Linked DNA regions of Homo sapiens. The protein of the gene in region 6 interacts with the protein of the main gene of each other region in a pairwise test. Each region holds a gene or a part of one and is shown on either strand. Other genes may lie near its edges. The genes, in order: TNFSF8, MS4A3, KIR3DL1, SLC10A1, FCRL4, BMP10 and DEXI.

Region 1 (4,630 bases), on a different chromosome or scaffold from region 6:
AAAAAAAAAAGCATCATTTTCCCATTAACTTGAGTTATCAGGAAGGGTTTCCTATAGGAAGATGGAATGTAGACTGACTTGAAAACAGGAAGAACTCAGACAAGTGAAGAGACTCTAAAAGAAACTCTAGGAAAGAAATCAATGGGAGAAAGCCAAGGAGCTTAGACTCACATCACCATTATTAAAAATGGAATGAGTTAATGGTCAATTAGCACTCTGTATGTGATGGGAACAGGGGTGGAGAACCATAAGAATGGTTTTACTGGCACAAGAAGTCACACAATTCTTATCCCAAGGCACGTGTATAGACAAAATTTAAAACAGCTAAGTCATAACATATAATGAGTGATTAAAGGGATACCATGACACCACAAGTTAAGGAGAGAATATATTTTTCCAGACAGGTTTAAGAAAAACTCCTGGGGATTAGTTTCAGGTTGGCTTGAGAAATGTGAACAATTTCAAACAGGCAGGGAAGGGAAAGCAGAGGAGAGGCACTCCTAGCCAATGGAACAGCATGAGCAAAGAGACAGAGGAGAGAAGACAGAGAAAGTGTAGGGAAATCAACAAAGCTTGCCTTGAGGTTTGACTTGAAGATCAGATAACTCCAAGCTTAAACTCCTTGGGAGAGACAAAGGAGGAACTTAGGTTTCTATCTCAAATATTTATTAAATATCTACTGTGTGCAGGACATTGTTCTAAAGCCTTGAAAAAAAACAACAAAATCCCTGTCTTTGAGTTACTATGGAACTTACTTCTTTCCTGTGATATTTTTGAAGCCTCAGTGGTGGTTGTATTTTGTTTTATTTACATTTAAGCCAGCATATTTATAAAATAAATACTATTTTATATAATAATATTACTTTATATTATAAAATAAACATTTTATATTATAAATATATTATAAAATAAACATTTTATATTATAAATATATTATAAAATAAACATTTTATGTTATAAATATATTATAAAATAAACATTTTATATTATAAATATTATATTATAAAATAATATTTTATGTTATTTAATATTTTATAATATATTGATATATTTTATAATATTTATATTAGGAAATACTATACTTACATGGTTTAAGAAAAGTAACTAGCAAATAAGAGAAAAGAAAGTAAAAATCTTCACACCTTCCCCACCCAACCACTAATCCCTCTTCACGGAGATAACCACCATTGACAGATTCTTGTGTGTCCTTCCAAAAATCTGTGCATCTACAAATACACAGTACACATTATAATATATAATAAACCCATGGGTCATTATAATAAACCCATAATTTTGCATCTTGCTTTATTCACTTGACAACACACTGTATATCTTAGAGATCCTTCCATGTCAGTACATAGAAGTTCATTTCATTCTTTTGAAGAGTCGCATAGTACGAAGTGTAAATGCTTCATAATTTATCTGTGCCTGGTGAGAGACATCAATGTTTTCTCTAGAATTTGTGCCCTCTGTGCGTGTCTGCAAGTATATCTGGGGAATAAATTTTTAGTGATAGGAATGGAATGTGCATTTTCTTTTTTTCTTTTTTTGGAGACAGTCTCGCTCTGTCGCCCAGGCTGGAGTGCAGTGGCGCGATCTCTGCTCACTGCAAGCTCCGCCTCCCGGATTCCCCCCATTCTCCTGCCTCAGTCTCCCGAGTAGCTGGAACTACAGGTGCCCGCCACCACGCCTGGCTAATTTTTTTGTATTTTTAGTAGAGACGGGGTTTCACCGTGTTAGCCAGGAGGAATGTGCATTTTCGCTTCAATAAATGTCAGTCTGTCTCCAAAGAGATTGTACTAGTGTACCCCTGAGGAATTAAAAGTCCTACCAACAGACACTTCTTTACATCAATATGGAAAGAAAAAAATGATTTACTGTTGAGCAAGCACAATTGTACATGCAAATAGGCAGCCTGCAACAGACTACAAAGTCAGGATGAAATTTCACACAATTAATCTAGCAAAGCAAAAGAAGAAAAAATAAAACTTCTCTTATCTCCTCAAGAGACAGGGGAATACATAATGAGATAGACAATGAGATAGACTCCTAGGTTAACACCACAGGTAGGTGTTTACATTTCAAAAAGCCTCTGAAGCCCTCAACCTTAGAGACGTCTTTGTTTTGTAAACCAGGAGACTGGGCTTCTCTAGCCCCAGGGGAGAATGTAAAGGGTTACATTCCAAAAGGTTGGAGTATAGGGTTCACAATCGGTAGGCTTTCAAGAAAGAAGCTGCCTCTTTTCCCTTTATAAGCAAAAAAAATTCTTTTTTTAAAAATAATAATAATAATACTCTTTTTAAATTATCTCCACACCAACAGTGGAGCTGAGCACCTGTTTAAGGGGAGTAATTATTGGTGGTGGTGATGGTGGTGTGGTATTTTGGGTTTATTTTTAAGCTCAGATACAAAATAGAAGTGTAGGGTAAACACACCTGATATAGCAATAACTGAAGCATACCCTTAGAATAACCACATATGGCAGACACGTCTGAATGGGTGTTCCAAGCTAGAGAGTCCAGGAGTGGTCAACCTGGAGACTCATTCCTTGTCTGTGAGGAACATCTGAGCCCCCAGCCCATCCCGTGGAACATGGGCCATACAGGAGATTGAGGCCTGAGTTTTTGGTTACATGAAGGCTGCCAGGTGGAGGCCATTAAGGGGAGGCTGTTAAGTGAGCATGCTATAGAAACTGCATGCTATTTGCAAGTGGTTGTGGTTTTCCTGCCCAACCCACCACCACTGGACGGTATATAAGGTGAATATGTTGTCCAGCCTGCTGCCATGAGATCATTTCTGTCCGTAAAGCAGTTTTCCTGTTCAGCTCACTGCCACTGGACTCTCTCCCCTGTATGTAAGCCCCCAATAAAACCCCACATCTTGTTTGCTGACTCTACACCTCTTCTTTAGCCTCTTGAACATGGTGCCTTCCCTGTTGAGCTAATAGGAGTTCGGCACAAGAAGAAGTTATTTGGAATGCCCCATGACACTTCCCACTACCCAAGGTACTCCCTCCACCTGACATTCATTCCATTTAGCAATCCAGAAAAATCCACTGTAAATCTTCCCAGGAGCGAGCCCTGTGTGAGGTTATGTGGGGAGGTCCCCAGTGGAAGGGGCAAGACCCTGTCTTCTGGGAACTCTGTTAAATTGAGCAGATGAAGCCCAAACACCAAGTTCTTGGGTTCCGGGCAGAATGGCACAGAATGCCACAGAGCAAAGGAGAAGTCATTTCTGCTTGGGATGAAGGAGGAGTTTGTAGAAGAGCTAGAACAAAAGCCAGGCTTCCAAGAATTACAACAGTCATGGCTTATTCCCAAAGTCTTATTTTGAAAATGTTCAAACCTACAGAAAAGTGGAATGGCAAATGCTAATATAACCTTGGCACCTAGATTGCTGTGTCAATATCTTGCTGTATTTTTGCTCTCTCTATATAAGGATATGAAAGTAAGCTGGAGGCAGCATGACCTTTCACTCACATGTACTTCAGTACCCATCTCTTAACTAACTGCAATGCCATTATCATTGCCAAGAGAGTTAATATTAATTCAATAATATCATCTAATAATAATATATGGTCCATATTTTAATTTCTTTACTTGTTCAAAAATGTCTTATAGGTATGGCTGTTGTGTTTTTGTTTGTTTGAACCAATCTAGGGTCACATACTGTGTTATGATAATATCTGTTTTAATCTAGAACTTTGCTTTTTAAAGTGTGGTCCTGGGCCTTGTTAGAAATTCAAAATCTCAGGGCTCACCCCAGATCTCCTGAATCCGAATCTGCATTTTAACAAGCTCCTCAGGTGATCTGTATGCACATTAAAGTTTGAGAAGCACCGAGCTAAAATCTCCTTTGCCCTTTGGTGTTTGTTTTAAATAACATTGACCTTTTTTTAAAGGGTCCAGGCCAATTCTGTTGTAGAAATCCATTCATAGCCTGGATTTGTCTTAGTATTAACTCATGGTTATACTCAGATGAAACATTTTTAGTAAGAATAGTATATAGGTAATTCTATATACGTCTTATTGTAGCACAGCTAGAGACATATGTCAGGTTGTCCCATTTTTTTTGACTATAGGTTTAGTCACTTGATTAAAGCGGTGACCACCAACTATCGCCTTTGTAAAACATTTTTTCTTTCTCATTAACAAGTAATCTGGCCAGGAGCAGTGGCTCATGCCTGTAATCCCAACACTTTGGGAGGCAAAGGTGTGTGGATCACTTGAGGCCAGGATTTCAAGACCAGGCTGGCCAACATGGCGAAATCCTGTCTCTACAAAAAATACTAAAATTAGCCGGATGTGGTGGCACACACCTGTAGTCCCAGCTACTAGGGAGGCTGAGGCAGGAGAATCTCTTGAACCCAGGAGGCCAAGGTTGCAGTGAACAGAGATGGCACCACTGCACTCCAGCCTGAGTGACAGAGTGAGATTTCATCTCAAAAAAAAAAAAAGAAAGAAAGAAAGAAAGAAAGAAAGAAAGAAAGAAAGAAAGAAAAAGAAAGAAAAGTAATCTATGTATGGGATAATACTCTGAAGACATAAATACTCTTCACTTGGTGGTTTTGCCATTTCTTAATGATCCTTGTCTGAATCAGCTAATGCACTGAGGGTTGAAAAAGAGGGAA
Region 2 (4,630 bases), on a different chromosome or scaffold from region 6:
GACAACTCCTTAATGACTGGATATTAACTGCTATATTTAGTGAGAGAAAAGCAGTCCCCACTAGTGCAATTGTAGCACTGGCAATGTTCATTCCAAAACTGTTCTGTATCTAAAAAAGAATAAGAATTTTCAATTAATATATGCAGCACGTACTTCATTCCTTTGGCAACAATTCATTGAAACAAACATTGATTGAATATTGTTTACACACCCACTGATATCCTAGATGCGAGGCTAACATCAATGACCAAAGAAAGATTTCTGTCCCCCACCCTCCATGGAGCTTATATTCTAGCAATAAAAACAAAGAAAAAAGTAAACATACTATAGGTAAATTACATAATATTTTTGAAAGTGATTAAGTACTAGGGGCTAACAGAATGGGATAAGGAGAATCTGGGAATCCAAAGAGAGGAGTGGGGGTTCATGATATTAAATAGAAATGACACTGGGGAGAGGCATGAAAGAGCTGTGGGTGCCAGCCAGGAGGATATCTGGGGGAATATCCTTGAAATTAGGGAAACACTCAAAATCCTGAGGCCAGAATCTTCTGGGGCAGCAAAGGGGTCAAGGGCGTTGGAGGCACGTAGTCAATACTAGGAAATGAAGAAGAAGGAAAGTTAACAGAGAGCCAAATCATGTGGGGCTCTGCAGATCATGAAAAGGAACTTGTTTCTAACTCTAAGAAAAATACAAAGCCAATGAAGGATTTGGAGCAAATAAATGATATACTTGGCTTTATGGTTTCAAGGGATCACTGTTTCTAGCAAGGCAAAGAGAAGTTCAACGATAAAAGCTAGAAGCCCAATTAGGAGAGACAAGGTGGATTGGATGAAATGTCATCAATAGAAAGATAAGAAAAGGTCAAAACTGGATATAATAATAGCTTGAAAGTAGAGCCAACATTATTTGCTGATAAATAGGATTCAGGATTGTGAAAGAAAGAAGACTCTTGGTTATTCTAAGGTGTTTGGTCTGGGAATCTGGAAGGATGACATTCCCATCAGCTGACATGAGGAGAAGGTTTGAGGAAGAAGACTGGGAGTTGAGCTTTGGATCTTTACATGCCAGTCTGATGATCAGGAGAGACACCTGGGCTGGAAATACTTATTTCAGGGTTGTGGGCATACAGATATTACTTGAAGTCATAAGAATGTGTGAGATCACAGAAGAAGTACGTATAGATTGAGAAGAGCAGGTGGCAAAGAATTCAGCTCTGGGGCACCAGAACATTAAAAGGTCAGAGACAAGGAGAGGAACCAGGAAAGGAGACTGAGATGGAGAAAGCAAAAGATGGGAGGAAAACCAGCCAAGCAATGTATGCTGGAAGCCAAGTGAGGAAATTCCTGGAAGGAGGAGTGGGCGACTAACTATGCTAAATGCTACTCATAGCTTAAGTTAGATGAGGAACAAGAGTTGACCGTTGTTTTAGCAGGGTGGAAGTTTTCAGTGATCTTAAAGACAGCAGTTACAGAAGGATAGTAGGGAATAAAATAAAGTCTTATTGAAGTGGGTTTGATTCAAACCGGTAGATGGAAATCAGAGAAAGAACATGATGATTCCTTTGAAGGAGTTTAGCTACAGAAGGAAAATACAAATTGTGCCTGTCCCTAGCAGGGAGAAATAATGTCAAGGTTTTCTTGTTTTGTTTTGTTTTGTTTTGTTTTTAAGTTGAGAACAGTAACTGGATGTTTACATGCTGATTAGAGATGGGGCAAGGTAACTCACGCCTGTAACCCCAGCCTTTTGGGAGGCTGAGGCAGGAGGACTGCTTGAGCCCAAGATTTTGAGACCAGCCTGGGCAACATGGCAAGATCCTGTCTCTACAAAAAAAAAAAAAAAAAAGACAAAAATTAGCCAGGGATGGTGGCACACACCTGTAGTCCCAGCTATGTGAGAGGCTGAGGTGGGAGGATTGCATGAGCCCTGGAAGGTGGAGGCTGTAGTGAGCTGTGACCACACCACTGCACTCCCATCTGGGTGACAGAGTGAGACTCGAAAAATATATATATAGCAGAGAGACAAAAATTAAAGTGATGCACTTGTGTGGGGAAAAAAAGAATGGAATCTTATACTCAAGTAGGGAGATCAGCTTTAAAGAAAATCACAAAATTTTCCTATGGTAAGAGGCTAGAAGAAAAAAATACATTGGTACAGATCTAGTCCATTAGTAGTGGAGGTCTGAAAATTCCCTTCTAATGGCTTCAGTTTTCTCAGAAGAGACAGAAAAATCATCAGCAGAGAGTAAGGATGACAGAAGTGGGATTGGTGTTTGAGGATACAATAAAATGGTAAAATAGCTATCCATGGAGGAGGGAAAGTGAATGAATGGAGTAGGAAAGTGGAGTATCAGTGGCTACGTGACTCACTAAGAACACATCATAGAGACTTAGCAGTTGTTTAGAATAGAAGTTTGGACTTTCAGTTGTCAAACTAGTTAGTGGTGGGAGTTCTTACTTCCAAATAATTAGAATTGGTCAAACTTGACAACACATAAAAATCAAGAAGACTTTTTCTAAGCTTCAAGTTCACCAATATTAAGAGCAAGCATCCCAGGAATGCATCCTCACAATGTATGTGATCTGCTGACCTACCATCTGAACACGTTAAGAAAACTAATATTTTGTGCATTAAATGATACTCAGTGTCTCAGTTGTATTCATGGACACTTACTGTCCTACTGTTTATGAATAATATATTTCTACTCCTCTGATCATAGAAAAAGAGGAAGTGCTACTTACCCATGTTCTTGTGGGTTTTATCCCTGCTACAACAGACAAGGTTCCTGAACTACAGAACTGTTTGAAAATAGGAAGGAAAACAGATAAAGGAATATTAAGTCTCAACCATTTTCTTCTTGGTCCTCCCTCAATTAGCAGATATCCAGCAATAGTCATACAAACCTCCCTTTTAAATTCACATCCTAGGACACAGAATTGTACTTGATGCTGCTCACTTTATTTATTTATTTATTTATTTATTTATTTATTTAGTCTTTCCATGCAATTAGTTTTATTCATTTTATTTTTTAAATTTTTTTTATTTCCATACGTTATTGGGGAACAGGTGGTGTTTGGTTACATGGATAAGTTCTTTAGTGGTAATTTGTGAGATTTTGGTGCACCCATCACCCAAACAGTATACACTGCACACAATTTGTAGCCTTTTATCCCTCACCTCCTTCCCACCTTTCCCCCTGAGTCCCCAAAGTCCATTGTGTCATTCTTATGCCTTTGCATCCTCATAGCTTAGCTCCCGCTTATAAGTGAGAACATATGATGTTTGATTTTCCACTCCTGAGTTACTTCACTTAGGATAATGGCTTATGCAAGGATTTAATGACGAAGAAGCCAAAAACAAATGCAATAAAATCAAAGATAAATAGCTGGGACCTAATTAAACTAAGGAGCTTTTGCACGGCAAAAGGAACAGTCAGCAGAGTAAACAGACAACCCATAGAGTGGGAGAAAATCTTCACAATCTATACATCTAACAAAGGACTAATATCCAGAATCTGCAATGAACCCAAACAAATCACCAAGAAATAAACAAACAATCCCATCAAAAAATGGGCTAAGGACATGAATAGACAATTCTCAAAAGAAGATATACAAATGGCCAACAAACATATCATTCACTTTTTAAAAATGAACCATCAGGGAAGTAATAAATAATCAAAACTGAATGAATACATTTTAAAATCACCCCTATTTCTTCTGATTGAATGTTGACCCAGATAATGGAAATGATTCTTCTGACTTTCAGACAGTAATCAGCAGACAAATTTCTTAACTCTCAAGCCAGGACTCTCTGCTGTACCACAAGGCAATTCATCAATACCCATTTTTCATTCAATTTTTTAAGTATCTATAAATGTAACATATAGTTATATATAAGATAATTTTTAGGACTTCATTTGTACTTGGCAAATGTGGTTTCTCTTAATCAGAAAGAGATTTTTGGCCTGGCATCAGGGCTCATGCCTGGCAATTCCAGCATTTTGGGAGGCCAAGCTGGGAGGACCACTTGTGGTCAGGAGTTCGAGACCATCCTGGAAAACATGGTGAATCCCTGTCTCTACTAAAAATACAAAAACAAAAATTAGGTGGGCATGGTGGTGCATGCCTGTAATCCCAGCCACTCAGGAGACTGAGGCAAGAGAATCACTTGAACTGGGGAGGCAGAGGGTTTCAGTGGGCAGAGATCATGCCACTGCACTCCAGCCTGGATGGCAGATCGAGACTTTGTCTCAAAAAATAAATTAATTAAGTAATTAATTAAATTAAAAAATAAAAAAGAGTTTATCGTCTCTAATTGTTTATATCAAGAATTGCAAATCAAAACCACAGCATGCAACCTTCCAATAACCTACAAACAATATTTTTGTCATCAAACACATCTCCAGCAGTGGTATCTAAGAAATAACATATAGCCAGGGGAGTACGAATACTCACAAACACAGCACCCCAAATCGGGTAGCCTGTGTAGAAGGTGAAGAAAAAGAAGTGCTTTTGGAAGTGGTATGGGTATTGCAAGGAACCCAGAAAGACACCCAAAGCCAGAATCATTGCTGCATTCAGGATCTGGATGGCCTGAAAGAAGAAAGGGGAAAAAGGCGTAACAGTCATAT
Region 3 (3,536 bases), on a different chromosome or scaffold from region 6:
TCAATGTGAGCCAGTTCCCCAAGGCTCAGAAAAGCTGCTCGAGACATGTGGAGTCACCCCATTTGCAGTGTAGCTGGGGGAAGCCAGAAAGCAGCCCAGCCTGGGTTTTGTACCCTGGAGCCACAGGAAGCACTCAGCTAAAGCACTGCATGACGTCCTCCTCCAGGAAGAACAGGAAGACAGCCCAGGCTGTTCTGGGACAATCCTCCTGATCTCAGGACTTTGCTGTCTTAGTCCATTTTTGTTGCTCTAAAGGAACACTTGAGCCTGGGTAACTTCTAAAGAAGAGATTGGTTTGCCTCACCGTTCTGCAGGCTGTACTGGAAGCATGGCACCAGCATCTATTTCTTATGATGGCCTCAGGCCGCTCCCACTCTGGCAGAAGGGAAGGAGGGTCTGTCTGTGCAGAGACCACAGAGATCACACGGCAAGAGAGGGAGCAAGGGGGAGGGGGAGCAATGGAGCTTCCAAGCTCTTTTTAACAACCAGCTCTCCAGGAACTAATAGAGAGGGAACTTGCTAACCCCGTCTCCTTGGGACAGCATTGATCTGTTCATGATGGATCCACCTCCATGACCCAAACACCTCCCAAGAGGCCCAACCTCCCACACTGGGGGTTAAATTTCAATGTGAGGTTTGAAGGGGTCAAACATCTCAACTAAAGTAGTTGTATCCTCAGCACGTTCCATGGTTACTATGAGAGCTATAACTGAGAAAGCAGGAGGAAGCTAGATCTCCCGCCATCTGGGTGCTTGTCCGAAAGAGATGCTGTAAGTGGTTACCTGTCAATCAAGAAATGCAAGACAATTCATATAGAGAAACTGCTATGATTAGCTTCTTACTGGTGTCTCCTCTTCTTCCAGGTAACCCCAGACACCTGCACATTCTGATTGGGACCTCAGTGGTCATCATCCTCTTCATCCTCCTCCTCTTCTTTCTCCTTCATCTCTGGTGCTCCAACAAAAAAAGTAAGTCTCACGGGGCACAGGCCAGAGAGCTCAGGGCCATGTGGGGAAGCAGGATGGGAGCACACAGCTGTGTGTTCCTCACTGGCAGGATGGTCCCTGGCCCAAGACAGGAGCCACAGAGGCAGGACTTTCTAGAGAGAGCACCAGACTCCCTGCCCCTGCCTTCAGCTCACAGACCGTTGCCTGATTCTGAACTGTATCCTCATGTCCCCTGCAGCCACTCACATCCAGGAGAAGGTTCCATGACAGGCAGAAAGTGGGAGACAGAATCAATGGGATGGGAACTCAGAGCTATTCATGGGATGGGTCCTTGAGCTCAGAGAGATAGAATGTCTGAGTCTGCTGTTGGCAACTGAGGGACCTCAGGCACCTATGGCCTCCCCCTGTTTGTTGGTATCTGCTTATGAAATGAGGACCCAGAAGTGCCCTCCGAGCTCTTTTGTTGACTTCCGTCTCCTACAGATGCTGCTGTAATGGACCAAGAGCCTGCAGGGAACAGAACAGCCAACAGCGAGGTAGGTGCTCCTCGGCCCAGCCTCGTGGCTAGTGTTATTCCCAAACAGTCCTGGAAAACGTGAGCACCCTCCCTCACTCAGCATTTCCCTCCCTCACTCAGCATTTCCCTCTCTCCAGGACTCTGATGAACAAGACCCTGAGGAGGTGACATACGCACAGTTGGATCACTGCGTTTTCACACAGAGAAAAATCACTCGCCCTTCTCAGAGGCCCAAGACACCCCCTACAGATACCATCTTGTACACGGAACTTCCAAATGCTAAGCCCAGATCCAAAGTTGTCTCCTGCCCATGAGCACCACAGTCAGGCCTTGAGGACGTCTTCTAGGGAGACAACAGCCCTGTCTCAAAACCGAGTTGCCAGCTCCCATGTACCAGCAGCTGGAATCTGAAGGCGTGAGTCTTCATCTTAGGGCATCGCTCCTCCTCACGCCACAAATCTGGTGCCTCTCTCTTGCTTACAAATGTCTAGGTCCCCACTGCCTGCTGGAAAGAAAACACACTCCTTTGCTTAGCCCACAGTTCTCCATTTCACTTGACCCCTGCCCACCTCTCCAACCTAACTGGCTTACTTCCTAGTCTACTTGAGGCTGCAATCACACTGAGGAACTCACAATTCCAAACATACAAGAGGCTCCCTCTTGACGTGGCACTTACCCACGTGCTGTTCCACCTTCCCTCATGCTGTTTCACCTTTCTTCGGACTATTTTCCAGCCTTCTGTCAGCAGTGAAACTTATAAAATTTTTTGTGATTTCAATGTAGCTGTCTCCTCTTCAAATAAACATGTCTGCCCTCATTGCTTCAGGTAATGTGACACTGTATTCGCTGAAAGAAACCGCTGTTATCATTACCATGTCCACATAACCCCATCTGTTCTCCGCTGGGTTCTCACCCCTGGACTCTGAGCTTCTGGAAGCAGGGTGGAGCCTCATTTGTCTCTGGGACTCCAATTTCCATCCAAAGATGCAGCACATAGGAGGTTCCAAGGATCGTGAATCACATGAACAAGTGATATTCTTACTCTCTGCAACCTGGAAAGCTGGCAGAGTCATTCCACGATGAAACATTTGTAGAGTCATAAGCCTTGCTAGTCTCATCTCCACGGGGACACATATCAACACATCATATTTCATACTATAAATATACAGTCGCTCCTCCATATCTGTGGGGTTTACAGGTGTTTATTGAACCAAGTGTAAATCAAAAATATTCAGAGAAAATGTCCACAAAGTTTCAAAATGCAAAACTATGTTGAATGGACACAAATGAGGCAGTGTGTAGGCTGTATCAGGAATTATAAGTAATCAAGAGATGATTTCATGTATACAGGAGGATGTGCATGGGTTATATCCAAATGCTGTGTCATTTTATGTAAGAGGCTTGAGCATCTGCAGATTTTGGTACCTGAGTGGAGATCCTGAAACCAATCACCCACGAATAGTAAAGGATGACCGTATATGACTTTTATTTCTCAATTTTAAATATAAATCATAAAAAATGTACAATAACTAGATAAAAAGTAAGAAGTGTTTTTATAGTGTGAGAATAAGTTTAGATTTATTTTTTCCTACGTGTAACCCTTTGGTTTAATATTATTTATTAAGAAGACATTCTATGCCACCTTAAACCACACGGCAGCCTTTGTCAACTCTAAAGGGACTGTGTGTACACGGATGTATTTTAGACACTGTTTCTGCTAAGGGGCTCTCTGTGTCCACACTCTTGAGGATGCTGCACTTCATGTAGCCTTATAAAACCCTTTAAATTTAGTAGCCAGAGCCCTCTAATTTGTTATTATAGGCTACTTGCTATTTTTTTTTCTTGAGGCGGAGTCTTGCTCTGTCGCCCAGGCGGGACTGTAGTGGAGCAATCTCAGCTCACTGCAACTTCCGCCTCCCAGGTTCAGGCGATTCTCGTGCCTCAGTCTCTTGAGTAGCTGGCGTTTCAGGTGCCTGCCACCAGGCATGGCTAATTTTTGAATTTTTAGCAGAGACGCGGTTTCACTGTGTTGGCCAGGCTGCTCTCAATCTCCTCATCTCAGTTGATCCGCC
Region 4 (4,630 bases), on a different chromosome or scaffold from region 6:
GTAGCTAGGAAGCTTGGGGACAGCTGATTAACACTTTGATTATTACAAACTCAGCCAAGCACAGTTACTGCTTTTGACACATCTCTGGATAGCAGACTTTCAGTGAAGTGTTACGTGAGGCTATTCAGGACTCCTGCAAAATGGATATTATTTAAAAGTCAAGTATTTTTGGAACTTATATACACATTCCTACAATACTGTCATTGTTCCACATACTTTGAAACTCATGAGAACTTGTCATACATATTTGTCTCAAATACCTTGATTACAGATAGGGATTTTATCCATTTTAGGATCAATTCTGGAAATTGCCAAGAGTCATTTGAAACAAAGCTGGTAAACAAGGTGGATGATCAAGCCCGGAAATACGGTTTTAAACCCAAAATGATGTCTAATAATAAGGGGACAAACCTACTTTCTTGAGTGACCTGCAAATTGAATATGAAGGAAGTTCCCAAAAGAACTTTCAGAAATATCTTGGGTGATAACAACATCATTGGAAACTATGCAGGTCTACTCTGAATGAAATTATAGGGTTTTTCATTGTGCAACATAGGATGCAACCTTTCAAAGTGCATGTGCACTCCATGCACTTTGTACTTTCCAGTGTGCATTTTAGAGAATTGCGTCCTCCAAAATGATAAACAGGTATGTGTAAATTTAAGACTGTCCCTTTTATCTCCTGAGTAAAGAAATACTTAACTTTTCTCAAACTTACCATGTTATTTTGTAATAGTTACATGTGTTGGTTCATTTTTTGGTTCATTCACATGTGTTGCATTTTATATTTCCTAGTAACATTTTAAAAAAGTAAAATATGTATAGCAAAGTTTGCCATTTTAATCACTTTTGAGTGTACAGTTCAGTGGCATTAAGTACATTCATAATGTCCTAACGACATTTTAACATTTATATTGCTCAAATTTCAGCTGCACAGCTTTGTGTTTCTGTTTTTAATACTTGTTGCAACTGATATGATCATATAAAACATCACCTATACCAATTAGTGGTCCTATCCCAGCATAGGAAGGACTTTCACACATCTCTTGAATAACCATGTGCTTCAAGTTTTATTAAAAGACTTATTAGCTAATGAACTTCTCAGTTTACCTTTGCATTTTTAGTTGATTTCCCCTTTTAGATTTCTGTCTTTCGAATTTGTCCTTTACCCAACAGTCAAATAATTTTTAATCTCTATCAAGAGTGGAGTGGATAATGTAGGAGACATTGAGTTACAGGAATTGTCCACGAATCCAGAAGCCCTCTTCTTCTGTATAGGCATTCACTCTTATTCTCTCACTCATGTTCTCTGACTCTTGGGGACTGCACAGTTGTGGTTATGAGCACATAATTTGATATGATCCTGGTGGGAAAGCTGCCTCTGCTAGTCTCCAGGTGTGTAAGCTCTGGGGAGTCACTCAACCTGAGTGAGGTTGACGGCATAGGACCTGGCATATAAGAACCGCTCACTAAACTGTAACTCCTGTTATTACTCAAAGGGGAGGAATTAACATTCTAGAGGTTCCTGTCACTCTCACTGCTGCCATCTCTGGAAATTTATCCTGTCTACAACCCCTGTCTCCTGCTGAGACAAGTGGCCCCGGGTAGTTGCTTCTCCATAGGCTACCACATTTTGTACCACCTGACTTCATTGCCCTGCTCACAACTGGGATGAGTGCTCATTCATGGGCAGCCAATCCATTGGCTTACACATGAGATGACATGTCCACAGTCTACCCACAAAGGTGGCCCGCACAGGCTGGTGAGTGGTAGAAATAATCAGATTCTCTCATTTAGGAAGTTTGCAGGATTACAGAGAGGGAAGCAATAGCAGGGACAAGTGTCAGAACAGAGGTCTGGGAGCAATAGCCACAAGTTGGCAGAAGTTGTAAGACAAAGGAGAGTTAGGGGTCAGTTCAGCAGTAGCAGCAGGTGTGGGAAATGCATGAGTAGAGTGTTGAGTCAATGAAATGGTGGGATCCTTATTAAAGAGTGGTGGATGGCTTATGGTGAAAGTGGCTCCTGGACCATGTCATTCTCAGATTCATCACCCTTTTAGCCACATAGCCTTTGGATAAACCCTTGCATGGGTAAGTTAAAAATTACTTGAATTGCCTTTTAAAATGAGCATGCCTGAAATTGTATCTTGGTATATCTAAATGTGACCTTCCACCAGCGAATGCAACTGGTTGAACCCGGTGTGAGCAGATACCTGCTGCCAGAGCTAGTTATTGAAAGTTGGGTTATTTTGATTTGCAAGGTCCAAGGAGGGTTATGTGTGCGTAAGAGGCTAGGACAATCATTTGTTCGTTTTCCAGTTTGGCACTCACTATATTATTTATGGGACAGGGTGACGAAGGATGAGCATAGTCCTCGAAGAGCCATAGAAGCAAGGAAACCTTAGCTTTTGCAGCTTGACCCACATGTTAGTCTCTGCATCCTCACAGGAGTGATTCCAGTTTTGGAATATAGGAAGATCAGTGTAGCTGTTGACTTTGTGGTGGTTTAACCCTGGAGGTTTAGCCAGGGGCAAAATGGGTCCAGGGCATGCCTGGGTTTTTTAGATTACCTTTTATGTAGTCCCTTATTACTAGTCTCTGTTTTTCCAGCCAAGGTATTTCTTAGCCCTTTTAATGTTCTCTGGCTTCATTTTGACTTCATTTCGTCTGTGGCATTGAGTAGTGAATGTGCAACACAACAGGAACAGACTGGTTGAAATAATCCTGGCTCTGCCAAGTAACTTTTCCGGGCCTCGGTTACTCTATCTGCAAATTGGGAATAAGGCAGGAGACTGAACTTCATCTTAAAGGCTTCTCCAGCTTTAAGATCTGAGATTCTCGGCAAGGTGTGGTGGCTCACGCCTGTAATCCCAGCACTTCGGGAGGCCAAGGCGGGGAGATCACAAGGTCGGGAGATCGGGACCATCCTGGCTAACACGGTGAAACCCCGTCTTTACTAAAAAATACAAAAAATTATCCGGGTATGGTGGCGGGCGCCTGTAGTCCCAGCTACTCAGGAGGCTGAGGCAGGAGAATGGTGTGAACTCGGGAGGTGGAGCTTGCAGTGAGCCGAGCTCGCGCCACTGCACTCCAACCTGGGCGACAGAGTGAGACTCCGTCTCGAAAAAAAAAAAAAAAAAGGGTCTGAGATTCTGCTTTTTGCAACCTCAGAGAAACACTTTTAAAGCTACTCTGAGGTAGAAAAGAGACATGTTCTCACATCAGTTGTCATTAGCACTATGACTTGGTATTCTGTTTCCCAGTTTTCCCACCTATAAAATGGAGGAGGGCAGAGTAGCATTAAATGATAGCAGTGGTCACTTCACATTTTAATATTCTTTATATTTTATATGCATTTCTTTAAGATCGTTTATGGGTGTATAGGATTTTTTAAAAAAGCAATCTTATGCACCCCACAAACTATCTTAAAAAAATGAAATGATGCACACAAACATGTTTCTCTGTGTATGTTGTTTTTCTGCTGGTGTGTGGAAGAGCAGCAGACAGGACTTGCCCTTCATTCCTTTATTTATTCTCAGGCATTAGCTATGGGGGCACTGTGATAGGTGCTGTGGATTCAGTGTTAATTAAGACAGCCTTATGGTCTTGCTTCTTGATAAATGAGTGGGGAATAAAAATGAACAGATGTTCTTAATGCAGTGTAATAATTGCTACAGGGGTTAGCTGGAGTGTTGGGTGTTATGGGAGTGAATAGGACAAGCATCTTACTCAGGCTTAGGAGGTTAAGGAAGGCTTCCTGGGGGAGGCGCTATTTGTGTTGAGACTTAAAGGATGAGTGGGAGTGATCCAGTGAAAGATGGTGAGTGGGGTGAGAATTGGGAAGAAGAGTGTTCCAGGTGAAGAGAAGGGCACGTGCAAAGAGAAAAGAGCTGAGACTGGTGAGGTCAGTTGAAACCAAATCAAGAAGTGCCACATTAAGGAGTTTAAACTATCCTAGGGGGAAGGAGTCAATGAGAGGCTTTAAGCAGTGGAGTGACATGATAGAGTTTGTACTTCACATCTTCACCCTCAGGTTAGAACTGGGTGAGGAGGTTGGATGAGAAGGCCATTTGAGTTGTCTAGTGAGAGGTAAGGATAGAGAGGAATGAATGGATTCCAGCAACAGAAGGTGGAATCGACAGTCATTGATTAGATGGGTGTGAGTGGTGAGGGAGAAGGGAACATTGAGAATGACTTCCAGTTTCTGGTTGGGGCAACTGGGCACACACACAGTGCCACCGACTGAGATAACCACATGGGGAGGAGATGACTTTAACATATATTGAGTTTTAAATGTCTGAGGTATATTCAGATAGAAAGACCTGGTAGATAATAAATGGATTCTGGAGTGAGGATAGAGTTGACATCTGATGATGCTGTTCTGGAAGTCTCGGTTTGCAGATGGTAATTGCAGACCTGAGAGGGACCAGATCCTGTGCTGGGAGAGGTCTGGTGAGAAAGGCAGAAAGCTTGGTCTGAATGCAGAGAAGTGCCTTTGACCAGAGGAACTCATAAGGGAGTCTGAAGGTCATGAGAGGTAGGAGGAAAGCAGCAGAGCTTAGAGTCACTAAAGCTGACAGAGAAGGCTTTTGAGGAGGCAGTGGTCAATTATGTCCAATGCTGCTAGAAGG
Region 5 (4,630 bases), on a different chromosome or scaffold from region 6:
AAGTATGTAATTGTCTGAGAATTTATTAAGACTCAAGTCTGTGTTGAAATCCCTCAGGAAACATTACATATAACAAAAGTGTCACTTGGAGAGTAGTGAGCTGTGGGTGAACTTCGAGGAACATCTGTGGCCATGCCCAGAGGAGCACTGGGCTCTGACTCAGCCCCACTAAGGAGAATTGGTCAGAGGTCCAAAGCTCCCTACCTCCAGTTCAATGCAGGACACACAGAAGGTGCTGTCAGGAATCTGGAAAGTTGAATTGAATTAAGAGACAGAGTTGAAGGATGTGGGTAATTATTCTAGAGCTGAAAAAGGTTCTGCTCCTGTCTTCTACACCAGGTTTCTTGGCATCTAAAGCCAGCCTGAGGTGGGCTGAGGCAAGAAGTCTTTGGAAGCACGCAGCAAACAGTGCCTGGGACAGACCATCTCCAAGAGGCAGGGGAGGCTGACCTGAGGAGAGAGGGGCCACTGGAGCACCAGATGGCAGGCTCAAGCCTGCTCAGAAAAGCCCCTGAAAAGCCAGACCCAGAAAAGCCCCTGAGGGGACAGAAGGATAAAATTAGCCAGCTCTTATTCTCAATCATTTCTGCAGAGCCTTTAGTTCATTCTGAATCTCCATTTATGGTGGATTTAGGATAGGCTGAAGTATCTAACTGGCCAGTCTATATGAACCAAAGAAACTGCCTAAGTAAACTGTTCAGATAAAGTTTTTGGAACTTTACATTAAAAATTTCACTCTTCCTCCCCTTCACTGAGACTTAGCCAATCAGACTAGATATGAGCAGCTCTCATTCATGGCTTCTGTTTGCAAAACTGCCCCTTAAGGAAGGGACGGACGTGAGTGTGTGTGAACGCTGGGAGTGGAGACTTGGGAGTGGAGACTTGGGAGTGGTGGCCTGGTGGCCACTAAGGCTGTCTGCATGCTGAGTTCAGGGGAAGGAACAGGGCAGGAACTGTGGCAAAGAAAAGAGCACAAACCTGACTTCCTCCGACGCCAGCAGTGAAACAGCAGGGCCACAGCCAGGAGAAGAGCACTGAGCAGCCCTCCAGTGGCTCCCGCGGCGACAAGGCCATCTCTGTTGCCTGGGGTCTCTAAGGGGAAAGGACCTGTGTGAATCTCAGTGGAGAGGTTCAGGGTTTGGGATTGCCTTTTCCTCAGCTTGGTTGGGTAACGAGCCCTGGAAGAGAGAAAAATCTAAAGGACTAGGTCTCATAAAGACATCTTGGGCCAGGTTTTGGCCAGAAAAGCTCACATTGGGTGGGCCAGGGCCTGAGTGCAAGAGGAAACAGCAGCTCCCTCTACCTTCAGTGAATCATTTTAGAAACTAACAATTTAGGGGAAATCCTAATGTTGTATTCTGGTAAGCTGGCTTCCTGCAAATTGCCCCCAGACACCTGGAGAGATACTGTGGGATCATGGCTTGGCAGCACCTAACTTAGGAACAGCAAACTGCCTGAGAGAGAATGAAAATTGCACCACTGATTATGGCACCAGTTGAACCAACAGTAACTCTGAGATTGCTCCGCATTGGGACACCACGATGAAATGGCATCAGCCTCCTTCCTCATAGAAGCCTGTGCCTGTGTGCTCTGAAGGGCAGGAGAGAAAAAAACGGATGGAAAAGTACACATAATCAATAAATTGTTAGGGGCTTTTGATATTTCCATGGGGTCCGTTCTCCTATCCTTTCATCCACGGAAAAGGAGGTTTCATTCAATTTACTTATTTATACAACAAATATTTACTGAGGCTGCCCTGTGCTGGGCATTGACCTAACCCTTGAAGACCCAAGAGTGAACAAGACGTTAAAGTCCCGGCTCTTGAGTTTATAACCCAGGGAGGGGAGACAAGCCATAAACAAATAAATAAATTTATACCGTGCCCTGTAGTGATGCGCTAAAGAGCAAAAAGCATGACAGAGGGACAGAGAGTGGAGAGTGGGGCGTGGTACTTTCCCATATGTATTCTTGGTCCCCAGGTAAACCAAATTCAGACCTCAGACACAGGTACCACAGAATTGACAGAGAACATGCAGGTAGTAGAACAACAGCAACACTGATCATGATTTCCGTTTATTTTCATCTATGATTTTGGGCACAGAGGAGCCATTGGCTAGGAGTGGCTGGTGACATTTCTGATATTATCCTTCCCTCCTCAACAATATCAACAAACCTGCCCTTTGACCTATGAGTGGTTCCACTAATAAACAGTATTCAGTGGACAGCCAGCCCAGCTTCCCAGCCACAACAGCTGAAAGAGTACGGTGGAGAGCAGGACAGAAATCTAAGGACAGAGAGGCTTGGCCACTACATCCTGTATTGAATCTTTCCCCATTGCCTGCTGGGGCATCCGCCGGTGCAAAATCAGAATCAGCCACACCCAGGCCTAGGATTCTAGACTCAAAGGGCAGAAAGCAAGTTACTCTACCTTCCTGGTAACCCTATTTCCTAAAAGAAATGGCTACTTTGGGGAAAGTAATTGAAATTTTGTCTCAGTTAGAAAGGCACAGATTCTAAATCCAGGTTGTTGGATTAGAATCCCAGCTCCTCAACTTACTCACTGTGTGGGCAGGGAAAATTATTTAATCTCCCTTTGCCTCAGTTTCCTATTTACTGTTGTAAATGAGTTAATACATGTAAAGTGCTTTGAACAGTGCCTGCCACTTAAGTGTTACGTCTAGGGAAATACTAGTTCATATTTTGTGGTCCTGACACCATGCCCTAGACTCTCAGGAAATTCAGGCTGCTCTCTGATTAGCTTAGAGGACACCTCCATAGGTTAAGCCTGCTCCCACACAGCCCTACCCCAGACATCCTCAGTCCATGCTATGGATTGATTTGTGCCCTTCTCCCCCAGATTCATACGCTGAAGCTCTAACCCCAATGTGATGGTATTTGGAGACAGGGCCTTTGAGAGGTAATCAGATTTAGATGAAATCATGAGGGTGGGGCCCCAAAGATAGGATTAGTGCCCTTCTAAGAAGAAACACCAGAAAGGTTGTGCTGCTCTCTCTCTCTGCCATGTAAGGACACAGCAAGCAGGTAGCCTTCTGTAAGCCAGAAAGAGAGCCCTCACAAGAATCCAAATTATATTAGTGCACTAATCCCAGACTTCCAGCCTCCAGAACTATGAGGAAATAGATTTCTGTTTTTTAAGCTCCCCAGTCCCTGGTGTTTGGTTATGGCAGTTCAAGCTGCCTGAGACAGCCCACCTTAGCCCAGTGCATGAGGCTACTGCAGAGTTTCTCTCTTTGCTATATATTCTCCTATTTCTAAGCACGGGGATTTTGCATAAAGTCCATGATTAAAAAATATTTAGGAGGGAATCCCTATTCCAGCAAACATCACTGGATCCTTGACGTTTGTTTAATCTTTGAGATCATCTGTTTCCTTAACAGATGTTGACACCTGCTTTCCAGGGCTGTCATGAGAATAAAATGAAATGATACATGTGAAGTGGCCAGTTCACTGCCTGGATCAGGAGAAGCTGATCCATTCTGATGATCTTAACCCCCAAAAGGAAGAGGAATAATTTATACTTACCAACAGATTCACTGTTATCTCCTCAGAGATTATAATCTTTGAACTTCCTGAGGTAAACTTTTCAGAATAAGAGCCTTCCTGCAGAAGAAACACCCTCTACCATCAGTGTTACTCTGGATTTCAGGGCATTCAGGAGTCTTTCGAGGGAGCCCTTGGCAGCTTGCAGTTTTGCTAATCCCTTCTTCCTCTCCCCTAATCTGATTCTTGAAATGCCATTGAGCCCTGGAATTCAAGACCAGACTGGGCAACGTAGTGAGAACCTTTCTCTATGAAAAATAAATTAAAAAAAAAATAGCTGGCCATGGTGGCACATGCCTGTAGTCCCAGCTATTTGAGAGGCTGAGGTGGGAGGATCGCTTGAACCCAGAAGGTCAAGGCTGCAGTGAGCCAAGATCACGCCACTGAACTCCACTCTGGACAACAGAGAGAGACCCCATCTTAAAAAAAAAAAAAAGTCATTGAAATGACATTAGCTCAGTCTCAGTCCTTCTCTGCTGGGAATTACACCCAGTGATGTTCCCAGACTGAGATGCAGATTGCTGTGGTACTTAGTTCTGGGGAAACACCTCAGTCTCTTAACCTGGTGGGCCCTGCTTGATCATAAGACTTGCCTCAAGGGAGTTGAAGGGAAAGTTGAGCCGCATCTGGGCCATTCGCATAGCAACCCCTTGCTGGAGCCTCTGACTAAACTGTTCAGGTTTATGGCTTTGACCGTCAGAGCTGACTTTGTATAAACAGTGCAGCTGTTTTTGGGGAGCAGTCCCCAAAATTTAGAAGTTGGAAATATTATAAGGATCTGGAAAGAAAACTTTAAAAAAGTATCTGCTGAATAGATAGAATACTAACAGGTTATGTCCCAGAAATTGAGCAGGAAAATGTTTCAAGAAGGAGGGAGGGATCAATTGTATCAAAAGCTGGAGGTAGGTCAAATCAAATGGGAACAGTTTTCCACTGGCCTTAGAAATATGGAGATCATTAGTAATTTTGGTGGAGTGAGGCAAGCCTGGTGGTGATGGGTTTAAGAAAAAATCAGGGAGGTAAGGAGAGTGAATTGAGGAGTTTTATTGTATAGAAAAGCAGGGAAATC
Region 6 (4,630 bases):
ACTGACAAAAGGGAGCCAATTGTATTTTCTGTGAATGCCTGTGGCATTAATGGGAATTACACAAAGTCATATAAAGTGGGAGAACCATGGAGCTACAAAATCCCACTCCCTACTGAGGTCAGTTACAAGCCAAAAACAACTTATGGTTTCTTCAGACCATTCTTTATTAATATAGCAATTAGTTTTATTCCATCGGGATATGTTATCAAGTAGAAACATGAAAAAGTGGGGAGTGTGCAAAATTAAATACCTTACCTCAAGGAAAAATAAGCTGCAAATAATTATCACCAAAATAATTTTTTTATTTTACTTAAAAAGACTCTGAAGGTACACATTTGGTTCATGAACACAGGGTAAAATATTTATTTCCATCTTCATTTTAGTCTAGTGATAACTATACAAATGTGGACATGGATAATGAACAGGTTTTACCCCAGAACATGACCGTGCATCAGCTGATTCGGTGTGTCTGTGGTGTTCGCTGATTTCCAATGTCCATGAATGCTCAGTAGGCGGGCGCTGGCACATTGGCCGCCCCACCACTATCAAGCCAGGTGCTCACAAAACCAGTGCCCATGTGTGATAAAAACATGCTGATCACAACAAACAGTTATTCCATGATGGGTTTTTAACTTATGACAAATATTTCACATGCAGAAACACCCCTGTGTACTTCTCTTCCATAGTCACATCTACCTTCCATTTAATGTAGGAAATCAACTGTTCCTGTTTGGGGGCAAGAAAATGCACAGAGTCATACCAGCATTTCCTCTTGCACCATATGTGAGCTTGCAGAACTGCAAAGGGTTGAGAATGACCCACAGTGACTCTGAAAAGATCTACAACCTTAAAAAGGGCAACATCCCTTCTGTGTTCTAGGCAAGTTAAAAAGGTTTTGCCAGAACACTGCTAGGCTTCATAATCTGTTGATGAATCAAGTAAGAAGAATACATAAAATTCTCTTATATGAAAATATCTTTTACTTGAAGAATATAAATCATAACAAATACTGAAACATTTAGTAACAGTTCTTAAAAAAAAAAGGTTTTTGTCATTAATTCCCCGGACCAAAATTTACACATCAGGAAAGAATTCGGCACTTTGGGGCTGACTCTTTTGGAAATCACTAAGCTAACATTTTTGACATTTACAAAGTAATTGGTCCAATTACAAATGAATTTGACCAATCACATCTCTGAATTTCTGGGTCAGTGACGGCAACAGGTGAATTCAGAGGGGAAGTACCAGATTTGGGGGATGAAAAGATTCATTTAAATAGCATCTCCGTTTACTGAGTAGCAATCACATTCTCTCACAGCCTGACAATATTTGCTTCTCATGATAAACTGACAACATCACTTTATGAAACTGCATGACAATGTATTGGTTAAATATTTCCTGGAACATCTACACTTCAGTTAAAACTGTACTATTTACAAATCAGAAAATATACTACAAAGCATGCTTGTAGGCACAGCATGCCTGCAAGACACAAATATACAAAATTATGGCAAGCTATGGCAAGATTCCTTAAACCAATAGAATATTCTGATGCAAAAAGAGAGAGATGGAAATACAGGCCATATATTATATGTGAGCCATACTCTGAAGCCCAGAAGACTCTCTATCCAAAAGGGAATCACAGACATAAAAATAAAATATTTGGTATTCTACAATATTTTACAAAAATAAATATATCAATCAATAAATAGTGGGAAGCCTAGAAACTCTTACATGAATATTTTGGCTGTGGGCTGCCCAAGTCCCTCTGCTATAATTCTCCTCAAGAGTTGTTTAGCTATATCAACTTCGGTGATGATAATTCTGCAATAAAAGGGGGAAAAAAACTGGCATGGGACCCAGAAGAAGGTCTATGACCAGAGAAACATTAGTAAGATTCTACCTTTTTAAGGATCTGACAATATTCTGGCTTCCTGTCAATGCAGGAGTTGAAAGTGACACCGGTGTGCTGCCGGGGTTCCGGTGGGAGCTGGGAGAACTCCTCTACGGGCTGTGTCTTTTCACTTTCTGACAAAAAGCCAAAAAAATACAACTAGCAACATTTGAATAACAATATGTTGCTCTCTGCACTCCCTTTCCACAGGGAAGCAGAAAATCATAGAAATGCAGGTTTACATCTGGATGGGCAGAAAGAAACAACTGGGCTATGCAGCCTGATCGCCAACAGCCTATATTTTCATATCTCTTTAACAGAAGAGTGACTATAAGTGCTCGAGACAAGATTTCTCCAGAAGCCCGGAGCCAGCAGCGCACACAGTGGAAAGCAGGGCTGGCACATCCTTAACATTCTAGTATCAGGGTGCTAATGTCAGCGGTGTGCTAATGTCAGTGGGATACTAAATGTCAGCGGTGTGCCAGCACCAGTGCACAGCTCCCAAGAGCTGACTTAGGTTTTAGAAGTTTTGCAAGCCAGTTGACATCACCTTGGCAGCTCAAGATAGACCATGTAGGAGCGTTTGCAGCATTGAAATCCACAAATCAGGGCTTTTTCTCCCCCTGGATTGCTGGTTGTAAGGGTTTTACCAGCACACCACTGTCATATGTATTAGACATAAAGAAAATTTGCTTAATTTTTATCTAACCAGGACTATCCTGGTCAGCTGAGGTTTTACTGTGTATGTATTACAGTGTCCTTTAGAAAGGATAAGAAGTACCTTGGAGTATGTGAGTATACATTGTGTACCATGGAGTATGAAGGATGCACCACGTTCCACTGAGGGTATTAAGCGTGGTTATTCAAAGCCAGCTATACATCACACACACATACACACATCATGTTATATGGAGGCTGTTCCACAAATAGTGATTCTGAGTTGCATGGCTTTCTCAAAGCATCAATCACTGTATACCCACTGACGGTCAAAACACCACTCTTCCATGAGCAATGAATTCCCCAGGATTCACCCAGCAGACAACAGATCTAGCGAGCTGAGGTTCAAATTGGGCCTTCTTCAAAATAGTTTTCCTTGCCTCTATTGTCTAGTGCAGTTTGAGTTTATAACCTTAAGAGATTTGTAAAAGGGGACTGATTGTTTTCCAGGGTAAAAAAAAGAAAAAAGTGTCAGACTTCTTAAGGAAGCATTCCTTAAGATGAGTAGGGGTGAATGGGGGATGACGTACTGGAAACCACATTCCTGGTTCTAACAGGAACCATCCATGTTCCCTGCCTGGAGATGCTGGAACAGTTTGGAAACTGCTCTGCTCTGCTCTGGTTCCTCCTGCACAAAGCCCAGAATATGCTTGCCAGGTAGAGGGAAATGGTTAGGGGTTAAGACTGGAGGCTGCCACCTGCCAGGAAAACCCACCGGACCCTTCCTGTGCAGAACACTTCCTCACCACTTTCAGTCCTGGCCAGTTGCAAAATGGGAAGATGGTAAGATGAGAAGATGGGAAAGTTACTGGGTTTCTACCATGAAACAATCATGATTTCAAAATTCAGGCTTGGCTTTTGAGTCATTTGCTTGTGTGTCTATTCATAAATTCGTTTATTTAAATCCATTCATTTGGACTCTGGTTTTCTTTTTCTTATACTTACTTATTCTGGTTTTCTTTTCTCTTATATCTAAGTATTCTTCATGAACAAAACATTTGATAAAGGATATTATTAAAATAAAATCAAATTAAATATCACGGGAAGATTTAGAAATTAGAACACTAACTCCTTTCACCCTGAGAGCAAAGGCACTTAGGTGTCCCTTTCCAGTTCACAGCATGCATCATGAAGGCCAGGGAAGAGCAGGGACACAGGGATGGGAGGAAGGTGAGAGGCACTAGGGCCAAGAAGAAAGAGGGAAGGAAGAAGATGGAGCAGAGGAAAGCAGGGGTGCTGAGACAAGGGAACAGTGTTAACAGGTGAAGAAAGATATTAACATCCTTTCTTCCAACAGACAGACCCCTTCTGATTTTCCTCCTCTTAGTCTTTGATACTTCTATTTTGTCCAAAAGATTTAATTCTTTAAACAGAACCACTTTTGGTTTTACAGACACATCTGAGGATAGCCTCTGAGGATAACATCAATATCCTCTTCCCTTTCTCCCTTTCTCCCCTTCAAGTACCCTCCCAACCCCTCTACTCTCTGCAGCAGCAATGGCCAGTACTCATGGCCTTGCTTTCCTATTGTCTCAGGAACAGATTTCATGCTGGTTTCTTCTGTTTTCCTGCCTTGACCAGGAGTTGCCCTCTGGAGCACATTGGTCCTCCATGGGTTCATTTTTTCCTGTTGTACCTCTAAGACCTCTTAAGTCCATTTGGTTTCTGTATCAATTAACCCTTCCCTTCAAGCATCCTTTGCCAGGCCCCTCCTCTCTGAGCAACTACAGAAACTCAACTGACAAAAGCTACACTTACATTTCCAGAGTATTTAGGAAGGGTAATACTTCCTAGGATGATTAAAACCCTGATGTCAATTATCTTGACTTAAATCCTACTCAGAGAAGAGGTAACAGAGAACATACCATTGGCCTTTAATATGCATACATTTGAGTGAGTCATGCATGTAGATGAGTATAACCTGCCTGCATAGAACCAAAAGATTTTTGTAAGTTCATGTATGTACAAATATACATACACAAGTGTGTGTCTTTTGACACTGTATTTTGCCTAGGGGTT
Region 7 (4,630 bases), on a different chromosome or scaffold from region 6:
CAAAAGCTGATCTGGGATTGCATCTTGGACCTCAACTCTCCCCTTTTTATTGTTAAGGGACACTACTGGGACAATTTTTTTTTTTTTTCGTTTTGAGACAGGGTCTCGCTCAGTCACCCAGGCTGGAGTGCAGTGGTGGAATAATAACTCACTGCAGCCTTGAACTCCCGGACTCAAGCAATCCTCCTGCCTGAGCCTTCCGAGTAACTGGGACTATGGGCGTGTACCACAACACCTCGCTATTTTTTTTTTCCTACTTTTTGTAGAGACGGGGTCTCACTATGTTGCCCAGGCTGGTTTCAAACTCAAGTGATCCTTCCACCTCAGCCTCTATAAAATTTGAATAAAGTTGTAGATGAGATTGGTCATAGGATTGTATAGTGTATCAATATTAGATTTGCTGATTTTGACAACCCTACTGTGGTTATGCAAATTTGTCCTTGTTCTAAGGAAATAAATACTGAATTATTTAGGAGTAAAGGTGCATAATGAACCCATTTTCAAATGCTTATGAAAATTACACATATACACATGTGTGCATATACACAGGCATGCATATACAAACAGAGGGAAGAGCATGCACGTGTACATGAGCAAAGTGCTAACTGGTGCAACTGGTGAGTTTGGGCGGGCATTGTTTGTGCTCTTGCAACTTTTCTGTAAGTGTGAAATTACTTCATAACAGAGGTTTTTGTTTGTTTGTTTGTTTTTAATTCAGGAAAAAGTTGGAAGAGTGCGTATGAAATAGGCCTGGCAGAAACTATGAGCTGGTGTTCCAAGGTCGGGGATGGGGAGCCCTCACTGGAGGCACCCCTCAAACCCTCAGTGCTGTGGCCAGGGAACCGGGCTGGCAGTCTTAGTTGGCTTTGTTCCCTCGGCCTCCACTTCCCCATTCTGTGCCTCCATTTATTTGTGAGACAGGGATAAAGAGGTCTGCCACTTTTATTGTGATCTTAGGTTTCCCAAAAGCCGAGTATGCTTTCAGAAGTTCTGGGAGGAAAGCTAGCAGATAAACCAGAAATATGAATATCCAAATTGAGAGAAGCCCTCACTTTCTTAGTTCGGCAAAACAGACACATGAGCTGTAAGTGGGGCAGACCCTGCCTGTTTCTTGGCTGAAATCTCCAGTTTGTATAATTCAGGGCTAAGAGAGCAGGACTCTTGACATCTCACTGTCTTGAGACACATACTGGGGTTTTCTCCTGTCTGAAGACGCAGCTGGCACCAATGTACCCTATGGCCAAGGACCTTCTGGGTGAGCCTCATGTCAGGAGCAGAGCTGGAGAGGTGGCCAGGCCTGGGGGTATACTTGCCTCCCTGTGTCACCATTGTCTGTCTCTTGCTTAGATGACAGCCACAGCTTCCTGGCCTGGTTTCCTGCATCCGCCCTGACCCCTGGCTGTGGGATCTCCCATAACTCAAATCTGACTGTGTCCCTGTGGAAGGTTTGGGTTTCTGACCTGGGCAGCTCTATGTCCGGCACAGGGGTTCTGCTGATAGCACAGGCCACAGATTGGCAAGGAGGGACCAGGTTAGGAAGGAGCAGCTGTGGTTCCTAGTTGGGAGATAACTGAAGCCTAGGAAATCCTGGAATAAGATAGACCAATGCATCGATAACCCTCAGCTCCAAATCTGAGCTGCACCAGGACAAGCTGACTCTGGTGGCAACGTTCTCCAGTCTCTGCATTTTCAGCTCGCTGTGTGCCAAGAGAGGGCTGGCAGGTACCAGCAGCTTTCACTTTCATTAGGAACCGGGACGAATAATCCAACTGAGCTGCCTCTGCACCAGAACTGCTGGGACGTGAAGACTCTCCCTGGCTCCCAGGCCAGCCACTGCAGCCCTTTCTCCTGGGAAGGAGGGAGCTCCCGATTCCCCATTCCCTGCTCCTGGGCAACAATTAACACTCTAGGAAAACCACAGAGCCGGCTATCCAGGGTTCTGGTGCCCTGGGGACCACAGGGCAGCAAGAAAGTTCTCCTAAGGGTCCTGGGGCTGGGAAGGCAGAGTGGGAAGTCTCCCCCAGCTAGGCTAGACCTGGACCTCCCTGGCACTCAGGCAGCCTGTCCTCTTCTGCTCACAGGATATAAATATTCATGCATGAGTATAGGTGCAGGTTTGTACATTTGCAAGGGCATGGGTATAACACGCTTTCCATTGTATCCGACTATGAATATGAGTGGTTAATATTAATACATCTCTTACTATATACAAGGAGATCTAAGTGCTTTATGTATATCTCACCTAATCCTCACAACAAGGGAGATTTTCATTATTTCCATCTTCTAGAAGAGGAAACCAAAGTACAGGGAGGTTAAGCAGCATGCCCAAGGTCACAGCTACCCTGGGATGTGAACCCAGGGCCCTGGCTCTTAACCATGACCCTAATACTGCCTCCTCAAGTAGGTGCTCAGCAAATGTTTGAGGAACTGAATTATGTGGGTCCACACATAAGAGAAAAAAAAAAAAAAGAGGGAGCAAAAGTAGGTGCACCTGTTCATCTTGAGATTCATCCTGGGCCCCACTGTGTGACATGCTCCACGCCCTTAGTCACTGTTTCCTGGATTGGCGTGTGGGGAACACATGTGACCACATGAGAATGGCTGAGAAAGAGCAGGACTGACTACCGGCGTTCCCCTGCTTATGGAAAGGGGCCTGGAGATGAGGCTCGGTCAGATCATCTTGAGGTCTTTCCTGGCGGCTTCCCTGCTGCTAGCTACCCCTCTCATACCCTGGGGTTCTGAGCTTCCTCGGCACTTGGGGGCAAGGCCTCCTTGGCTTGGATTTGAGGGTGGGGAGGAGGGAAGGCTGTGCATGGCTTCCACCACTTCTCCAGGCCTCCCCACTTCCCAGGGTCAGGCCCTGACACCCCGAGAGCTTTGCAAGGGTGTCCCTGAGAGATATTTCCTGGTGTTTCTGCTTAAACAGCGTTTGCTGCAAAATATGTCGAAGCATTTGGGATTCAGTTTTTAGTTCAGAATATGCCAATGTTTTCATTTGGAAGGGGAAGTGTTTCTGTTGATGTGGTAAAGAGATAAAATAAGACGTTCCTCACCAAGTTACACTGCTTCAAAGTCAAATGCTTGGCTTGGAGACAGGGATTTATCTTGGGATCGCAGGCCCTTAGCACACGGCCTGGCAGAAGAGCAGGCAGGGTCAAAGTCTGTTGAATGAGTGAGTGCATATGCAAAGGGCCTAGACACAGGAGTGCGATACAATCAATGCTCAGTACAGATTTTGAATGGATTCCATAGGTTCTACTTTTGAGAGTTGTTCTCAGTCTGTTCATGTTTCTCTATCTTCACTAAACTCCCCTCATCCAAGCCTCTGTCACCTCTGGCCTGGACAACTAACAGCATCTGAGGTGGTGGCCCTGCTTCCCCTCTTACCCCTCAGCTCATTCTGTCCACAATTGCCAGAGTCATTTTTGCAAAATGGGAATGGGATTGTGTCATCTCCTGCCTAGAACCTTCCAATGGCTTTCCACTGCTCTTGGCTATGGCCTTCCAGGTCCTCCATGGTATGGCTCCCACCCACCTCACTGACCTTTCCTGGGGCTGTTCTCCAGCCACATGGGCCTCCTTTTGGTTGCGGAAAAACCAACTCTCTCTCACCTGAAGGTCTTGGCACCACTGATTCCCTCAGCCTGGACTGCTTTTCTCCAGATCCTTCTATCAAATTAAGGCTCAGCTCAAAAGCATCATCTCCTTAGAGAGGCTTTCTCTGACCCCTCAGCTAAAGCAGCCCACCATCTCTATCCTACCGTTTCACTTCTGTTTCACTCCATGTCTACACCTACAGAGACCGTCTACTAGAGGCCAGGCACAGTTTTAAGTGTTGAGGACATGGCAGTGAACACAACAGGGAAGCTCATGTCCTTCTTGCCTGCCTTCATAGTTCCGAAAAAATCTGATTCTCTTGTTTGGGTTCCTACTAGTCTTCCTCACCAAGTGCCAAAGGGCCAAGGCTTGGTCTGTCTTGTTCACTGTGTTCAATCACCAGGCACTGTACTGAACCAACAAGCATTCATTCTGTAAAAGAACGGACGGATGGATGGCAGGCAGGCAGGCAGGCTGGGGAGGTGTGCAGAGCACCTGGCACACACTCCCCCTGGCACTTGGTTCTCGCTAAGATGTTACTGAGCTCAACTGAAGCTTTTTCTTCAAAGAAATCTCACTGTGAACCCATTAGGAGAGCCCTCTGCCGCCAGCTATGCTGTCAGTAGGTCCTACCCCACCCTGTACCACCATCTGCAACAGACTCAATGTTTGTGTCTCCTCAAACTTCATATGTTGAAACTCTGATCCCAAATGATGGTATTGCGGGGTGCGGCCTTAGGGAGGTGATTAGGTCACGAAGGCAGAGCCTTCATGGGTGGGATTAATGCCCTTATAAGAACAGTAAGAGATAAATGTTTAAGTCCCCCAGCCTATGGTGTTCTGTTATAGCAGACTGAACTAAGACACCCTCTGCCTGTGGTTGTCTTGGCAAAGCCAGGTAATGCAGGAGAGGGGTGGACTCAGCCTGCTTGCGGTGAATGGCATTAGTGTCCATTTTCCTAAAGGAGCCCTTGCCCACCATATCTCAGCATCCCCTCTTCATTGCCACTTAGACCCTGTGCCCAGTGACACT

The links.
Region 1: the proteins of BMP10 (region 6) and TNFSF8 interact in binary tests that used the Homo sapiens proteins (3 or more experiments, as listed by UniProt).
Region 2: the proteins of BMP10 (region 6) and MS4A3 interact in binary tests that used the Homo sapiens proteins (3 or more experiments, as listed by UniProt).
Region 3: the proteins of BMP10 (region 6) and KIR3DL1 interact in binary tests that used the Homo sapiens proteins (3 or more experiments, as listed by UniProt).
Region 4: the proteins of BMP10 (region 6) and SLC10A1 interact in binary tests that used the Homo sapiens proteins (3 or more experiments, as listed by UniProt).
Region 5: the proteins of BMP10 (region 6) and FCRL4 interact in binary tests that used the Homo sapiens proteins (3 or more experiments, as listed by UniProt).
Region 7: the proteins of BMP10 (region 6) and DEXI interact in binary tests that used the Homo sapiens proteins (3 or more experiments, as listed by UniProt).

Annotation. Positions count from the first base shown.
Region 1 is NC_000009.12:114,923,349-114,927,978, reverse strand, and holds part of TNFSF8 (tumor necrosis factor ligand superfamily member 8), read left to right. Parts: intron 1-4,630.
Region 2 is NC_000011.10:60,062,430-60,067,059, reverse strand, and holds part of MS4A3 (membrane-spanning 4-domains subfamily A member 3), read right to left. Parts: intron 4,593-4,630; coding exon 4,455-4,592; intron 2,799-4,454; coding exon 2,742-2,798; intron 110-2,741; coding exon 1-109. UniProt on the Homo sapiens protein: Hematopoietic modulator for the G1-S cell cycle transition. Modulates the level of phosphorylation of cyclin-dependent kinase 2 (CDK2) through its direct binding to cyclin-dependent kinase inhibitor 3 (CDKN3/KAP).
Region 3 is NC_000019.10:54,828,498-54,832,033, forward strand, and holds the end of KIR3DL1 (killer cell immunoglobulin-like receptor 3DL1 isoform 1 precursor), read left to right. Parts: intron 1-863; coding exon 864-968; intron 969-1,430; coding exon 1,431-1,483; intron 1,484-1,601; coding exon 1,602-1,778; 3' UTR 1,779-2,281; downstream 2,282-3,536. UniProt on the Homo sapiens protein: Receptor on natural killer (NK) cells for HLA Bw4 allele. Inhibits the activity of NK cells thus preventing cell lysis.
Region 4 is NC_000014.9:69,779,687-69,784,316, forward strand, and holds part of SLC10A1 (hepatic sodium/bile acid cotransporter), read right to left. Parts: intron 1-4,630. UniProt on the Homo sapiens protein: As a major transporter of conjugated bile salts from plasma into the hepatocyte, it plays a key role in the enterohepatic circulation of bile salts necessary for the solubilization and absorption of dietary fat and fat-soluble vitamins.
Region 5 is NC_000001.11:157,580,553-157,585,182, forward strand, and holds part of FCRL4 (Fc receptor-like protein 4 precursor), read right to left. Parts: intron 1,093-4,630; coding exon 979-1,092; intron 1-978. UniProt on the Homo sapiens protein: May function as an inhibitor of the B-cell receptor signaling. May function in the B-cell-mediated immune response.
Region 6 is NC_000002.12:68,860,766-68,865,395, forward strand, and holds the end of BMP10 (bone morphogenetic protein 10 preproprotein), read right to left. Parts: 3' UTR 144-4,630; downstream 1-143. UniProt on the Homo sapiens protein: Required for maintaining the proliferative activity of embryonic cardiomyocytes by preventing premature activation of the negative cell cycle regulator CDKN1C/p57KIP and maintaining the required expression levels of cardiogenic factors such as MEF2C and NKX2-5.
Region 7 is NC_000016.10:10,935,915-10,940,544, forward strand, and holds part of DEXI (dexamethasone-induced protein), read right to left. Parts: intron 2,208-4,630; exon of another isoform or gene 719-2,207; intron 481-718; exon of another isoform or gene 1-480.